Regions from separate parts of the Homo sapiens genome. Here region 1 is linked to region 2. Evidence: fine-mapped QTL for protein levels in blood plasma. A gene starts in region 2. The other region holds a variant in brackets. All regions are shown on one strand. Distances are between the middles of the regions.

What was found. PIP is the posterior inclusion probability: the model's chance that the variant is causal. The UK Biobank Pharma Proteomics Project read protein levels with antibody pairs (Olink). The fine-mapping took linkage between variants from a reference panel, not from the people measured, so its PIPs are less certain.
Region 1: its variant is fine-mapped to the plasma level of the EGFR protein (UK Biobank, PIP above 0.99).

Annotation. Positions count from the first base shown.
Region 1 is chr7:55,166,832-55,171,321 of GRCh38, reverse strand. EGFR (epidermal growth factor receptor) reads right to left here. Exons shown (of 28, transcript NM_005228.5): 16 at 109-147. Among named protein-coding and RNA genes, the nearest start is that of EGFR-AS1, 20 kb to the left of the region's middle. The variant G/A (reference allele first, on the strand shown) is at 2,219.
Region 2 is chr7:55,017,355-55,021,354 of GRCh38, reverse strand. EGFR (epidermal growth factor receptor) reads right to left here and starts at 2,338. Exons shown (of 28, transcript NM_005228.5): 1 at 1,990-2,338. The coding sequence starts at 2,077. It overlaps LOC105375284 (a long non-coding RNA gene), which reads left to right and starts at 2,433. Exons shown (of 4, transcript XR_007060329.1): 1 at 2,433-4,000. RefSeq lists an enhancer at 664-1,338.

The DNA.
Region 1 (4,490 bases), 150 kb before region 2:
AACTTGATCAGGACAGAGGACAGTCAGAAATGCAGGAAAGCATCTTCACCCACAGCAGTGTGGTCATTCTTGACGAGGTCCATGTGACACAGAGCTGTGAACACTTACCCATTCGTTGGACAGCCTTCAAGACCTGGCCCAGTGCATCTGTAGGAAGTGAAAGAGAAATATACATTTTTCTCATTCTACTTCTTTGGCATATATTTTGGAGATTTTTAATTAAATCATAAAGCAATATATGCTAAACTACTCTTAAATAATTAAAATCACTATGTGTCTGGATGTTGGATTGGTGGTTAATTATTTATTATGCATTTATTCATTTGTTCATTCACTCAGCAAATATTTTTGAGTTTCTACTCTGTGACAGGCGTTGTTCTAGCATTGAACAAAGCAGCCAGTTTGTTATTGAGATGTTTTCACATCTGGCTTTTGACACAGATAATTGTCCCACAGCTGGCTCTAGAATTTCAAACAGAGGGGCAGAAGGAACCAAGGCTAGAAGCATGGACTGGGGCCATGCTAATTACGGAGAAGGCTGGCAGCATGGAGTCCCTGCAGGTTTCTGACAAATTCTGTGCTTTGAACAATCATCTGGCAGCGAGGAGGAAGAGGTCAGTCCTGGGGGTGATGGTTAGCTACTAGTTGGGGTGAGAGGCACTGGCAAAGGGAGTGGAAGGAAGGAAATGGGTAGGATACTCTTGGGAACCTGGCGGCCCACGTGCAGGGGTGGCAGAAAGGAAAAGCGGGGGGAACAGACACGTGAAGGCATGAGGCTCAGTGGCAGGAGGAGGCCGTGATGATCACAGATGCAGAAGGCCAGGCATGGAGGTGGCTGCATCCACCCCAACCCAGCTGAAACTCTGACGGCAGAAGAGAAGGGATCCATCCTAAGCATGACTCCTGAGCAGCTGGGCTCCCGCTCTGGTGGGACACGCTGCCATCATTACTTTGATTACAGGATGATAGTTTAAAAAGGCAGAATAACATGGCTTTGAGACTCTCATTTCCTGGCCTGGAGAAAGATGGACAAGTACATTTCAATATGTGAGAGGCCTGGGGAGCCCTGGTGTAACACTATAATCTGATCCTAACAGTTTCTATCTCTGCTCTCCAGGTCTCTGTTCTCTACACTGCTCTTCTTAATTTGGGGGTCTGGGTGCTCCCTCTTTTCCATGGTGTCATGTACTGCAGTCTTACCCCTGTGGTGCTTTTGAGCTTAGTTCATAAACCAAACACACAGGCTTCGTAGGGGTGGAATATACAGGAGACCTCGTTACTGCCCACCCCACTACCTCCTACAGACACCAAACAGTCTGAGACAGAAAGCAGTCACTCAGGAACAGACCTAATAGCAGTCTCTCCCTGCCTGCTGAATGCAATACAATGGGAACACCCGGCAGAGGGAGGGCAGATTGAAACTGCAAATTTTCTACAAGATGCAGTCTTATGCAGGCTCTGAAAATGCTTTTGGGCAACCATAGGGATTGCTAACAAGAAGCTGTGACAGACTTGTAGGGAAAGGTAGACCAGTTGACCCTTGAAGAGAAGCTGGACAAGGACAGTGGCAGGACGGGGCTGCAGGAGAGAAGGATGTGAGAGCGTCAGAAGGCGAGGGGCTCCTGCTGACGCTGATGAGGCCCTCGGTAACTCTGCAGAAATGACTATTGAGTATGAACTCAAGCAGCTATAGCATGTTATTTAATTCTGTCAGAAAAATTATTCTCTGGCTCCCACTTGATTCTTTTTTTTTTGGTAAGGAATTTATACATATTTGCAATTATAGCAGTAACTAAACTTTGTTACATATAATTAAAATAGGCAAATTTTCATATTATTTGGTTTATTAGGATAAAGATTTCAAAGCAACTTTCTCCTCACCGTGTACTATGAAAACACAGTTCCATTTAAAAATAGATATTCCTGCTGGGCGCAGTGGCTCACGCCTGTAATCTCAGCACTTTGGGAGGCCAAGGTGTGTGGATCACTTGTCAGGAGATCAAGACAAGCCTGGCCAACATGGTGAAACCCTGTCTGTACTAAAAATACAAAAATTAGCCAGGCGTGGTGGCAGGTGTCTGTAATCCCAGCTACTCGGGAGGCTGAAGCAGGAGAATTGCTTGAACCTGGGAGGTGGAGGTTGCAGTGAGCCAAGATCACGGCACTGCACTCCAGCCAGGGTGACAGAACAAGACTCCGTCTCGACAAAAAAAAAAAA[G/A]AAATAGCTATTCCTCCAGGGTTCCTCCCCCTCGTCTGGGTGGCTGCACCTGCCCGGTTGGAAGGTAGGGCTTTTGGAATCAGCAGCTGCTTATGCTGTAGTCTGGGCTCTGATGCTGCTGTTCACAAGTTGTTAAAGAAACCCCTGTAAGTGTTTCTTTAACAATAGAAATGGAGAAGGCAATACATCCCATCTGAGAAATGAGAGAGACAATATATTCAGGAATGTTGTGCACGTCATAAATACTCAGTGAAAGAAATTAAAAAAATTTTCCCTCTCATCAACACTTGGCCGTATTTTAAAAATTAAACCCATTTCTATCGTGTAATTCCTATATAATTAATGGCTTTGGGAGAAGACACAGGTGGCAATAACAAGATTATATCAAACTATATACTCATCTAAAAAGGCTCAGAATCAGGAATGTAATCACACATACTAAAGAAAATATTTATAAAATTCCATATGTCAAATGAATAGTGTCAGGACTTTATTTGAAGCAAAGGGAGAAATTGAAATTGTAGAAAGGAAATGCAGTTTTAGTGGGAGACTAAAGTCAGACAGTGAAGATTTATTAGGACCTGGGAAAAAATAGAAAGACATTAGAAAAATGACCACTAACATTTTTAATTTAAATCTTGACTAAATCCCCTCTTTCTATATTTGGCAAACTATTTCTTATACAAAGTAAGTGTATTGAAAATGCCAAAACCCAATCACTTTCTGGACCTCCCCTAAGCCCAGCAACATATGCTCACTGACACAGAGATACTGATATAGAGATATTGATGCAGAGATACTGATGCACATCTATTCCAGAAGAAAGAAAAGGGGGAAGATAAAACATTTATTCTATACAGATAATATAATTCTGTTTCAGAGGCTTAGCTCCAAAATTGCTTATAGAAATAGATTACGTGAAACACTAGCAAAGCATCTTTTATACCATGCTTCATCGAGCTCACAAAGTGGCCAACAGAGCTGGCATGTTGGTATACCCAAAGGCGAAAATATGAAGAATCTTACATTGTTCCCAGGGAAATATTTGTTAAAATTCAAAATCAATTCCAGATTTTAAAAAACAGTTAAAAACTAGGTATAGGTGAGTACTTCCTTAACTAGATAATTAGTATCTCAGACTAATAGCAAATGTTGTTTTTCACGCTGAGACATTAGAGCTATTCCCATTACCTTTAGATGCCAAGCTCTGATGTCCACTGTCATTATGTCTGATATTATTCTGGAAACTTGGCCCTTATAATATGATCTGATACTTTTGGAAAAGATATTAAGATATCACTGTTGGAGATTATATGATTGTTTTCCTAGAAAGTTGACAAATCATCATCATGTCTCAATCACCGTCACTGCCACTGTTGTTACTCCCACGTCCTCACCACCATCATCGCCACCACCGTGACTTCCACCTCCTCACCACCAACACCATCATCGCCACTACCATTGTGACTCTCACCTCCTCACCACCATCACCACCATCAACACCACCACCACTGTGACTCCCACCTCCTCACCACCATCACCACCATCAACACCACCACCACTGTGACTCCCACCTCCTCACCACCATCACCACCACCACCATTGTGACTCCCACCTCGTCACCACCAGTAACACCATCATCACCACCAACGTTGTGACTCCCACCTCCTCATCACCATCACCACCCTCATCACCACCACCACTGTGACTCCCACCTCCTCACCACCATCACCACCATCAACACCACCACCATTGTGACTCCCACCTCCTCACCACCATCACCACCATCAACACCACCACCATTGTGACTCCCACCTCCTCACCACCATCACCACCATCACCACCACCACCATTGTGACTCCCACCTCCTCACCACCATCACCACCGACACCATTGTGACTCCCGCCTCGTCACCACTGTCAACACCGTCATCACCACCACCATTGTGACTCCCACCTCCTCATCACCATCGCCACCATCAACACTGACACCATTGTGACTCCCACCTCCTCATCATCATCACCACCATCAACACCACCAACATTGTGACTCCCACCTCCTCATCACCATCGGACCATCAACACTGACACCATTGTGACTCCCACCTCCTCATCATCATCACCACCCTCATCACCACCATTGTGACTCCCACCTCCTCATCACCATCACCACCATCAACACCACCAACATTGTGACTCTCACCTCCTCACCACCATCAACACCATCATCACTACCACCATTGTGACTCCCACCTCCTCACCACCAACACTGC
Region 2 (4,000 bases):
TAATTTAAAATAAAGAGAAGAGTCTCTTCGGCAGAGACAGGGCTGACACCTGACTAACAGGACCGGCAGTCAGCAGTCTCCGGAGCAGGCCCGCGTCTCCCGGGCACCCCAGGCAGGCAGGACGGGCCTGCAGGCTCAGCAGAGAAGAAACCTTTCCACCAGTTCCTTCAATGAAAAGCGGAATCCTTTATTATTGGAATCACACTCTACCTTTTCCCTCTTTCCTATATTTGGCAATATTGTAACAATTCCAGATGTCCTCAAAGAGCTCTTAGCATTGGCAAGTAACATCTCCGGAGACTTTAACAATCCTTCTTCCGTCTAGTGATCCCCAAATCTGGCTGCCCAACAGATCACATGAAGAGCATTAAAAAAAATCCCAAGTCCAGGTCTTGCCCCATGCCAATTAAATCAGAATGTCTGGGGGCGGGAGCCAGACACTGGTTTTTGTTTTGATTTTTTTTTTTTTAATCCCAGGTAATTCCAATGTGCAGCAAGGTCTGGGAACCACTGTTCTATGCCTTGCCCCTCCCCCAACGACCGCGCTGGGCACCAAACCCCAACTCCCCAAGCCAATGACATCAACAGCAAGTACGGGCCTGGCTCTTGGAACCCGCGCAGCTCAAGGTTGGAATTGTGCAATTAAACCTTCCAAGGCATGTTTCCCCTGTCAAGTGGGTTTATGGTCGGTAGTCACGAAGCCAGACTCGCTCATGTTCTGTCTGCACACTTGGCACACTTGAACCAGGGACAGCAATCCGGTGTGTGTGTGTGTGTGTGTGTGTGTGTGTGTGTAAGACAGGTTTAATATTTTGGTTGGCTCAAATTCTTCAAACAGCAAAAAGAGACATCCAAGAAAGAAAGTCTCCGGGTTTTGAGGAGAAGTTTGCTGTGAGCCCCATTTTGAAACACCATGGTGTTGGCCAGGATGAGCTCTGCTTCCGGGGCTTCCGCTCAAGAGTCCCGCGATCCCCCCCTGCAGTGGCCGGACAGCCGCGTCCCGCTCCACCGCGAAGCCCAGGCGCGACCGAAGGGCTGCAGGTGGAGCAGACCCGGACGTCTCCGCGAGGCGGCCATCGAAGGAGAGCCTGGGGCTTTCGGCGCGGGCGCCCAGGAGGGAGCTGGGGTCCCCGGGAGGTGGGGGGCACTCTTGGATAGGCAAGACGAGGGCGCACCGGGCGAGGCGAGCGGCCGGGGTCTGCGCCCAAGGGGCGGGTCGGACCCCACCTGCCTTTTGCCAACGAGGAAACTAACCGCCGCCAGCACCACCCCTCCCCGGGAGCCGCAGGTGGTGGTAGACGAGTTCTCCCAGCTCCCAGGTCGAGGCTGCGACTCCACACTGGGGAACGAGGATCGCGGGGACCTGGAGAGGGGCCGGGGCCAGGCTGGCGGGCGCCGGCTTCAGTTTGAGACCTGCGCGGAGGGCGGAGGCGGGGAGGTCCTCTCAGAAAGCCGCCTGTCCCGCGGGGTCCGAGGGGAGGCTGTATTTTTGGGTTCCTTCCTCAGCTTCCCTAAACAGTGCAGTCTCGGCGGGTGGGCAGCGCCCGCCCCTCGGGTGCGCGCCAGGACCCCGTCGCGCCCTGGGAAGACAGCGCGGGGCGCACGTGCGGGACCCCGGCCCCAGGCGCCCACCAGCACCCGGCTTTCGCCCACTGACGCCGATCCTGCGCAGCTGGGCGGGGAAAGTGAGGGAAGAAAGTTGGGAGCGGTTCGGGGCGCCGGAGGTCCCGGCGGCCGTTCCCCGCCTGGCCTGCAGCCCGGTGTCCCACGCGTCTCCTCCTCCGCCCGCCCCAGACTCTCCCGGCCGAAGAACGAAACGTCCCGTTCCTCCCGCGGTCCCGGTCGGCGGCGCAGCTGATCTCAAGGAAACAGGAAAGGACGGGCGGGGGCGCGGGCGCCGAGCCGGTGCGCCGGTGCGCGGTTGGGCGGGCTGCGGGGTCCGGGGCGCGATCCGGGGGCGGCGCGGGAGCCGGCGAGACACGCCCTTACCTTTCTTTTCCTCCAGAGCCCGACTCGCCGGGCAGAGCGCAGCCAGCAGCGCCAGGAGCGCTGCCCCGGCCGTCCCGGAGGGTCGCATCGCTGCTCCCCGAAGAGCTCGCTCCGGCTCTCCCGATCAATACTGGACGGAGTCAGGGGGCCGTGCGCGGTGGTTGTGGCGTTGGCGGCGAGGCGGGGACTCGGGCGGACGCCGACGAGGTGGCCTGTCGTCCGGTCTGGGCGGCGGCGGCCGCCGGGGCTAGCTCGGGACTCCGGCCGCCTCGGCCGCGTCGGGCGCTCACACCGTGCGGGGGGCGGAGGCTGCTGCGGCCGCGCTGCGCCGGGGGCTGCCCGGACGTCTAGCTCGCGCGGGCCGAGGCGCGGGGAGGCAGGGCGGGAGGAGGAGGGACCAGGCGGCGGAGGAGGGATCGGGAGGAGCAGAGGAGGAGGAGAATGCGAGGAGGAGGGAGGAGAACCAGCAGCGGGGACCCAAGGCCAGCGGCCGCCGGAGGCGGTGGACAGCGGTGGCCCCCGCGGGACCTAGTCTCCGGCGGGAGTGGGGCGGCGCATGGGAGGGGAGCGGGTGCCCTGAGGAGTTAATTTCCGAGAGGGGCGTTCCCAGCACTGCCCCTCTGGACCCGGTCCCCGCGGACTTGCAGGCCCAGCCTATGTCCAGGTCGAGCCAAATCTGTGCCAGGGTCCCCTTCCCCCTTTCCCTTCTTTTGTTTTACAAAGCAAACTTGTACCAGCTTTAGACAGACTGGCCGAGCCTTAGAGCCAGCGTCGGATAATGGCACCGACGGGGAAACTGCTCCTTTATTCGGGTCCCCACCTCCCCTGCAGCACTACGGGACCCTCTCGGGGATCAGAGGCTGGCCTGGCAGCTGAGGAGGTCGCCGTGCCCGCGCGGCAGGGGTGCCAGGCGTCCGAGGTGGTGCTCTAAAGTCCGAGGGTCCTTCAGATCTTGTCAAGCACCCTCGAAATCATCTGAAATGAGGGCACCCAACTCCGGGTGCAGAGACAGGCCTCCTTAATGTTTATTGCAACCAGCCATGGGTACTTTGAAGCCAATGTGTGAAGCACATTACTTCGCAAAAGTGAAGCTCTTGGAATAAAGGCTTGACACAAACAGCCGTGGAGGTGCTTTTAGAGAGGCTAAGTGTCCCACTGCCCCTGTAGCTCCCGCAGGAGAAATGCCAGGGAAACTCGCGGAAGCTTTGGCCAAAAGAAACTGAGCTTTTTTGGGCTGCAGGAACTTGAGCTATATTCCTTTGGCAAGTCCACCCCATCCCCACTGTTCCTTCTCCTGCAGTAAAAATGTCCTCTAGGTCCATGTTACAGCCAGACCCCTCCTCTCTTCACGAGATTCACTAGGACCTTCAGGCCTGGTTCAACAACCCTGATCTCTCGGCTCTGTCAAAAATCACAATCCTGAAGTAAGTGAAGCTACAGACCTGCCCTTTGCTGTCTCTGAAGGGGAGCAACCTTACATCTTTCCTCCTCATCCAGCAAAATGTTTGTGCCTGGGTCTCGCACCCTGCAGCCTGAACGGTGGGGTTTTTCACCAGGGCAAGCGCAGACAGACACAGGTCTGCTCACTGCCCGCACAACCTGGAACTTCCCTGTGAATTAGGAGAAGTAATCTGTTCCTTTGTTTTAACAAATCAGTACAGCCACTGTGCGTTGAAGTCATGCCCTGAATGCAGAGGCCATGAAGGCTCTGCAGGCATGTGTGTGCTTCCTGCACACCTGGGCTGAGAGCAGTCCGTAGAAACACAGAAAACAAAACTAGAGAAAGGCAAATGGGAAGCACAACAGTGGAACATAAAATGAAGACAGGAGTGAGTCTTACAATAAAAGACCTGAATACAATAAAGTCCTGTGCATTCACTTAACAAGGGCTGCAAATTTGGTTTTAAACTATATTTTCTGTCAAGGGAATGTGACCTGTGTGTACAAGTCACAACACAAATCAATTTAAGCTACAACTGATTTGTAAGACTGTACAGGAATTTCTTTGAGT